2 linked regions of the Homo sapiens genome follow. The protein of the gene in region 1 purifies or fractionates together with the protein of each later gene. This does not show direct contact. Each region holds a gene or a part of one and is shown on either strand. Other genes may lie near its edges.

Region 1 (3,652 bases):
CTAAGGTCTTTGGGGTTGGCTACTGCCCTAAGTCCTAAATTGAAAATATACTAAGGGGCTGCTGGCAGCCTGCGCAGCCATTTCCTGTTAAACCAAAGCTGCCCAGCTACGTTCCTGAAAGAGAGCTACAACGGCTAGCGGAGGGAGGGAGACAGCCACGTCAGTCAGGCATCCACCTCCCCTGAGGGTCTGCGGCCTGGCCAGGGTCTGTGGGGCTTCACACATTTGGGTCTGGCTCAGAGCCTCAGGGAGAGGAACCCGGACATCAGGGAAAGAGGAGGGAAGGCACTTGTGTGAGGAGTCAGAGCTGTGAACGGACCTGGGATGATGCGCTGGCCTCAGAAAGGAATTAGCTTAAGGAATGTCCACTGAGAGAAAAAGGTAACACTGTGTTAAAAGACCAAGAGAGAAAAAAAAAAGTCAGCTCCTATGGTGGAATTACAATGAGGGAAAGATGTATCCACAAGTGCTCCCCAATCAAAAGAAAGGGAATGGGGCCTGTGGAGCAGGGGACAGAGTGGGAACACTCAGAGGAAGGAAAAGAACAGGAAGAAGAATCCGCAGAAGAAAAAGGCAAATAAACACACTCCAGAGAGGACAGATACAAGCTACTTACACACAAGCACGCAGGCACGCACGCACGCACACGCAAGCTGCACGCACACCAGAAAGACACAAGGAGATCGGCCAGTCTAGACTCTCAAAGCAAAACCACCAAGCAGAAGCATATCCTGGGAATAGAGGAAGGCAGAGACACTGCAGGGGAAGGGCCAAGTGAGACGCTCCCACTCACACTGTGTGGAGTCCAACGGATGGGGCAGCGTGGCCACCTGGCCTCGCTCCTGCCCAGCCTCCCCCACGGGCTCCCTGGTGCACCTTCACAGCGCCAGGTGGTCGCCAACGTCACTGTGCCCTCCCCTGGGGTTTCTTTCCTGGGTCCAGCTGCTCCAGTTCTCCCTCTAGCTCCAGAGGGCCCTCTCTCATGCTTGCTGGGGAAGTACTGGGGGCTTGGACATTGGTCCTTCTTACAGATGGAACGACAGGGAGCCTCGTGCTGCCGCTCGCACCTACCTGATTGTGCATGAATTTGAGGTTGATCCCTTCCAGGGTCACCTGCAGCAGGCCACCCTCACCAGTCTTCAGGTCCTGCACAGGGAACTCGCCACCCAATTCAGGTCCTGTGGTGAGGGAGGGGGCTATCAGCTCACTGGTGAGGTGGGGAATCCCACCCCTGACTTCCCTGCCAGGCCCCTGACACTCAGAAGGACTGGTAGAAACAGGGAAGACACTCTCAGGAAAAACTCTCCTCACCGGGTTTGATGCTTTGCTGTCGGGCGGCAGCGCGCTCCATGCTGTCCTTCACACAGTAGTACAGCTCCCGACACTGTGGCACAGGGGGAGAGTGGTCCCATCATGAGGGCTGTCCAGGGTTCCCCACCCACTGCTCTATAATGGCCACTGAAGGCTGGAGGTTGAAGTGAGGGGTAAAATTTTAAGTAGTCCTCCTATTTTTCGGATGTCTTATTCATTGTTGAGGTTATGAATGATAGATCCGGAGCATATGAATAGTATGGCTTTAAAGAAGGCATGGGTACAGATGTGTAGGAATGCTAGATATGGTTGGTTAATACCGATTGTGACTACTATTAGGCCTAGTTGGCTTGACAGAGACAGCTTTAGGTACTCCACCCAACAGCTGGAGACAGAAGTGTGGCTCCAGATGTGTGTTTTGGAATTTTAACTTCCCAAAGAGAAATTCACTATTTGGTCTTCAATGCCTACTAGCCCCAACCCAAACACAGATCCTGCGTACCTTTTTAGTATAGAACTTGTTGAGCTGGGTCTCAGAGCCATTTCTACGCCACAAGCACAACACCTTCGTCTTGGGACAGTAGGTCATGTTGATGAGCTTCTCGTACCACCAGCGCTCATACACTGTTCCGATGTTACTACGCAACACCACACAGTCATCGCACACCTGGAGAAGTGCACAAAGCGGCTCAGTGGTTCCTGTCTCTGACAGCCTCTCCCTAGACTGTTTCCTACAGGGAAAGGTGGTCCTGGGGCATCCCCATGGTCAGGTTTTCTGCCTTACGCTCATGGTTTCCCTAGGTGAAGACACAAAACAGAACTACTGACATGCTGCCTGCTACAAGGATTGTTGGAAGAGATGGAGTCATTAGAAGGAACCGATGTATAAGGGAGGAGGCACAAATCAATCAGTTATTTATTACCTCTTTTTTTTTTTTTTGAGACAGGGTCTCACTTTGTACCCCAGGCTTGACTGCAGTGGCGCCATCTCAGCTCACTGCAGCCTCGACCAGCCAGGTTCTTCCTGCCTCAGCCCCCAAAGTAGCAGGGACTACAGGTGCACACCATCACATTGGCTATAATTTTTTTTTTTTTTTTTTGAGATGGAGTCCCACTCTGTTGCCCAGGCTGGAGTGCAGTGGTGCAATCTCGACTCACTGCAACCTCTGCCTTGTGGGTTAAAATGATTCTCCTGCCTCAGCCTCCCGAGTAGCTGAGATTACAGGCACACATCACCATGCTCAGCTAATTTTTGTATTTTTAGTAGAGACAGGGTTTCACCATGTTGGCCAGGCTGGTCTCGAACTCCTGACCTCAAGTGATACACCCGTCTTGGCCTCCCAAAGTGCTGGGATTACAGGCGTGAGCCACCGCGCCCGGCCCAGTTATTTATTACCTCTTATGTGCTCTACGGACTTAAAGTATTTGGAGGAGATCTCATGCCTCCATCTTACAAGCTCAGGAATCATCTTTGTTGACAAACACAAAGGTAGGAGATCATGACAGACTTAACCAAGGAGAAAAATGGAGCTGATGCACTTTCTAATCCTGGGTCTACCCTTTTTCTATAAAAATATTTTTAAAAATTAATTACACAAGTGACACATGAACAATGCTTATTACATAAAAATGATACAATACAGGATGATATAAATTAAAAAGCAAATATCTTTGACACCTTCTTGTTCAACATTCTCTTTCAGGTGAAGTTATCTGTTCTTCTTTTTGAGACGGATCTCGCTCTGTCGCCCAGGCTGGAGTGCAGTGGCGCAATCCCGTCTCACTGCAAGCTCCGCCTCCCAGGTTCACGCCATTCTCCTGCCTCAGCCTCTCGAGTAGCTGGGACTACAGGCACCCACCACCATGCCCGGCTAATTTTTTATATATTTTTTTAAGTAGAGACGGGGTTTCACCGTGTTAGCAAGGATAGTCTTGATCTCCTGACTTCATGATCCGCCCGCCTCGGCCTCCCAAAGTGCTGGGATTACAGACGTGAGCCACCATGCGCAGCCAGTTATCCGTTCTTAAGGCTTCAAATGTTACGGGAGACATTACAGCACAATGGTGAAGGGCACAGGTCTAAAGTCAGCCTGAGTTTAGATTCCAGCTCTGCCATTACTGAGCTGTGCCACCCTGAGCAAGTTCATCTGTGTCCACAATTCCTCACAGGTAAGATGGGGATAGTAACAGTAATAACTTCCTACAGTTACTATGAAGACTAAATGAGTTAATGTGCATAAAGTATTTAAGGTGCACACAAAGCCAGGCACACAGAAAGTACCCTAATTAGCTACTAGATATCAGAACTATGATACTAATGATTATTACCATGTTGATGGTT
Region 2 (3,652 bases), on another chromosome or scaffold:
TAAGTAGGCAATGGAACTTGAGTGAGGTGTTGAAAGATGACTAGGATCGTGGGGGTTGGTAGATGAATAACATTGTAGGAATTGTGAAAGTAGGGAATTTACTCTTGTCTAAGTGCCTTTTTTTTTTTTTTTTTTTTTTTTTTGAGACTGAGTCTCTCTCTGTCACCCAGGCTGGAGTGCAGTGGTGCCATCTCGGCTCACTGCAAGCTCCGCCTCCTGGGTTCACGCCATTCTCCTGCCTCAGCCTCCCGAGTAGCTGGGACTACAGGTGCGCACCACCATGCCCGGCTAATTTTTGTAGTTTTCATAGAGACAGGGTTTCACCATATTGGCCAGGGTGGTCTCAAACTCCCGACCTCAGGTGATCTGCCTGCCTCGGACTCCCAAAGTGGTGGGATTACAGGCATGAGCCACTGTGCCTGGCTGTCTAAGTGCCCTTCATAAGAACAGAGCTCTGCTCTTATAAAGTGGTTCTAAGATTTAACTTGTGAATATTATAATAGGAGAAAATACTCTCACTAGGATTGAATCTTAGTTTAAGATTATAGTTGAATGTCTTAGCAAGAGTTTATCATTTTTTCTTAGTCTCCCTTAGTGTATTTGTGTAGCAAATGGTAATTTTAGTGTACTCTTCAATTTACCCTAAATATTTCAACTCATATCTAAGGTTTTAGTGACTTAGTCGGATGTCTTCTTCTGTAGTGCCATCTTGAGGGTCATACTTTCAAGGAAGTAAACGTGAAGAAAGGAGAAATAGAAATTTAATAAAGATGAACTTCAGAGATATATTTATTTAAAATAAGGAAACAGTTCGGACACCATGGAACTTGTTTTGAAGTTATTTTACCCTAACTTGTATGATTGGAAGATAGTTTGTCTGTTAATTTTTAAATTATTTTGTTACAAAGCAGATAGTGATCTAAAACTGCAAAAAATTAAGTATGTTAACTGTTTAGAACTTCCTTGAATGCAGTTATTTAAGGAGAAAATTCACTGTAATGTTTATATTTTTAGGTTGCTGTGAGTCTAGGTACTCCAATTATGAAGCCAGAATGGATTTATAAAGCTTGGGAAAGGCGGAATGAACAGTAAGTGTTTAGAAACTCAGTAGTTCATTATGTAAATTAAACATTCTGGTTTAAAGATAAATCCATGTGCTGAAAAAAGTAATTTCATAGATATAAAAACTGAATTCAGTCTGAGTAGCTTGAGGAATAAAATCTAGGGAGAACAAGTTATAAAAAATTATAAAAAATTAAAAATTGAAAGATATCTTTGATATCTTTGGATTTTACCTTGTGAAGTAATTTTGGCTATTATAAACATTCTGAAATTATTAGATAATAGCTAAATAATTCTGTGTATTTGGATTTTGTTACATATTTTTAAAATTTTGTGTTATCTGGTTACATTTTAATTGGTGCTTGAAATTTATTGCCTTGTTTTGCTTAGTTTTCCAAGCGCATGATTTCTTGCTGTGGCACTTCATGAATTAAGATTTCATGAAAGTTATCATTATTTTAGATTTCATGAAAGCCTTGGAACACAGTACATATAAATCTTCAAATAATAGAGAAAAAATTTGAATCTCTTGTAAAGCTTATCTGTGATCACATTTTGTCAGAAGTTACTTTTGGGATGACAGGACACATCATTTTTTTAAACTGAAGTTTTTGTGAGCATTTCAGGACCAAATATTAAATAGTTTCAATAGATAGATTATGCCAAGACCTTGAAAATTACTGTAGGTTTGTAAATTGATATACCTAACACTTGAATTTAAGTTAAACTGGTTTTGGAAGAGTGTATTTTGTTTTTAGGGATTTCTATGCAGCAGTTGATGACTTTAGAAATGAATTTAAAGTTCCTCCATTTCAAGATTGTATTTTAAGTTTCCTGGGATTTTCAGATGAAGAGAAAACCAATATGGAAGAAATGACTGAAATGCAAGGTAAAATTTAGCATAATGTAAAAGTTATATCTATTTTAGTCCCTAGGCCTGCTTAATCACTTCCTGGTCAATATACCTCTTAAAAAATTTGAGTTTGGAAATAAGTAGCTTGGCTTATTTATGCTTATGTGCATTCCTTTTTAGGAGGTAAATATTTACCGCTTGGAGATGAAAGATGCACTCACCTTGTAGTTGAAGAGAATATAGTAAAAGATCTTCCCTTTGAACCTTCAAAGAAACTTTATGTTGTCAAGCAAGAGGCAAGTAATTCTAGAATGAGGTTGGTTTTTAAAAACACTATTAATAGCTTCTCTGATAAAATAAATGTAAACTGTTTATTAAAATGTTTTTTCTCTCACCTAGTGGTTCTGGGGAAGCATTCAAATGGATGCCCGAGCTGGAGAAACTATGTATTTATATGAAAAGGTATGCTTTTAACCCCTTACTTATTTGTTCTGTGAGCTTGATTGTTTGAAAATAACACTTTTCTGTCCAGAAGGTTTAGAAGCATGTTTAGGAATTTCAGAATGATTAAAACAATTGGGATATCAAGTTATCTTAGTCTATGTAGATTTAAGTGGAACTATTCAATGTAATGTGTATTATTTTAACCTAATATATGTTGTTCTGTGCGAATTCTTGGTGATAACATTACGAACAAGAACATCTCTATCTTCAGAAACTTAGACTTTTAATGGAAAGATAGATTTGTACGTAGTTAACGATGGGGAATGATGTGTGCCACAACTGAGTAATGTATTTTAGGTAGCCTCGCTCTGAGAGACTCAGGAGGGAATAAAAAGGTGAAATAAATGTTGACCCAACTTACTAGGCCAACTAGGTAAGGACATTCGTTAGAACCCCAATTGGGAGAGGGTATGAAAGCTTTGAGAGTACATTAAAATAACAAGTAGTTTAGTATGGCTTTACAGTGTGGGAAGGAAGGCCAACAGATAAAACTTAATGGATAGATAGAATCAAGAAGTTTTTAATACATTAATGAGCTTGGATATTATCCTATAACTATTGGGAGCCATTGAAGAAGAGTAAGGGGAGAGACGTCATTAAAAAGATGAGTTTGATAGTAGAATATCGTTAAGGAAAATCTAGTGTTTATGGTGAATCTTGGTGAAGAGTAGTATCACTCACCAAAATGACAAAGTTATGGAAGTAGTCTTTAAGGGAAGATTTACTTCAGTTTAGGATTTAATAACTTTGTGTGGAATATTGAAGATGAGTTGTTTCTGTAAAATCTATATAGTACCATATTGTGTTCTCTTCAGAGTCTTTGAAATGTGAAGTTCTTAAAGTTTAAAAAGTGTGCTTTAGATTTAGGGAGAGAACTCTTAAAAATCAAGTGTTACTCAGCACATATTGGAAAGCATTGTGTCCAGGCACTGTGCTAGGGATACAGCGAACAGACTGTGAATGGCCCCTGCCTTCTTGGAGTTGATGAGCTAATGAAGGAGCAGGTAGTAAACAAGTTTACAGATGAAAATATAATAGTGATAGTGGCTATGAAGAAAAATGAGGTGCTTGAGGTTAGACAATTACAGTCGTCTCTTGACTATTATGTTTTATGAAACTTTTGAATTGCCTGGTAGAGTGTAGGGTTATAAAATTATTGTGCAAAATCCAGATTCTGTCAGACTTGTAAATATATTTTTCTCTTGTTCCTGTCTCAGTAAAGAACCATGGAAG

Evidence for each region. The genes of interacting proteins can lie anywhere in the genome.
Region 2: the proteins of MADD (region 1) and ECT2 purify together in Homo sapiens (affinity purification with mass spectrometry; one large-scale study listed by BioGRID and IntAct). This does not show direct contact.

The regions. Positions count from the first base shown.
Region 1 is NC_000011.10:47,321,997-47,325,648, reverse strand, and holds part of MADD (MAP kinase-activating death domain protein), read right to left. Parts: intron 1,979-3,652; coding exon 1,814-1,978; intron 1,385-1,813; coding exon 1,312-1,384; intron 1,179-1,311; coding exon 1,072-1,178; intron 388-1,071; exon of another isoform or gene 316-387; intron 1-315. UniProt on the Homo sapiens protein: Guanyl-nucleotide exchange factor that regulates small GTPases of the Rab family. Converts GDP-bound inactive form of RAB27A and RAB27B to the GTP-bound active forms.
Region 2 is NC_000003.12:172,760,596-172,764,247, forward strand, and holds part of ECT2 (protein ECT2), read left to right. Parts: intron 1-1,014; coding exon 1,015-1,088; intron 1,089-1,820; coding exon 1,821-1,951; intron 1,952-2,095; coding exon 2,096-2,211; intron 2,212-2,314; coding exon 2,315-2,377; intron 2,378-3,652. UniProt on the Homo sapiens protein: Guanine nucleotide exchange factor (GEF) that catalyzes the exchange of GDP for GTP. Promotes guanine nucleotide exchange on the Rho family members of small GTPases, like RHOA, RHOC, RAC1 and CDC42.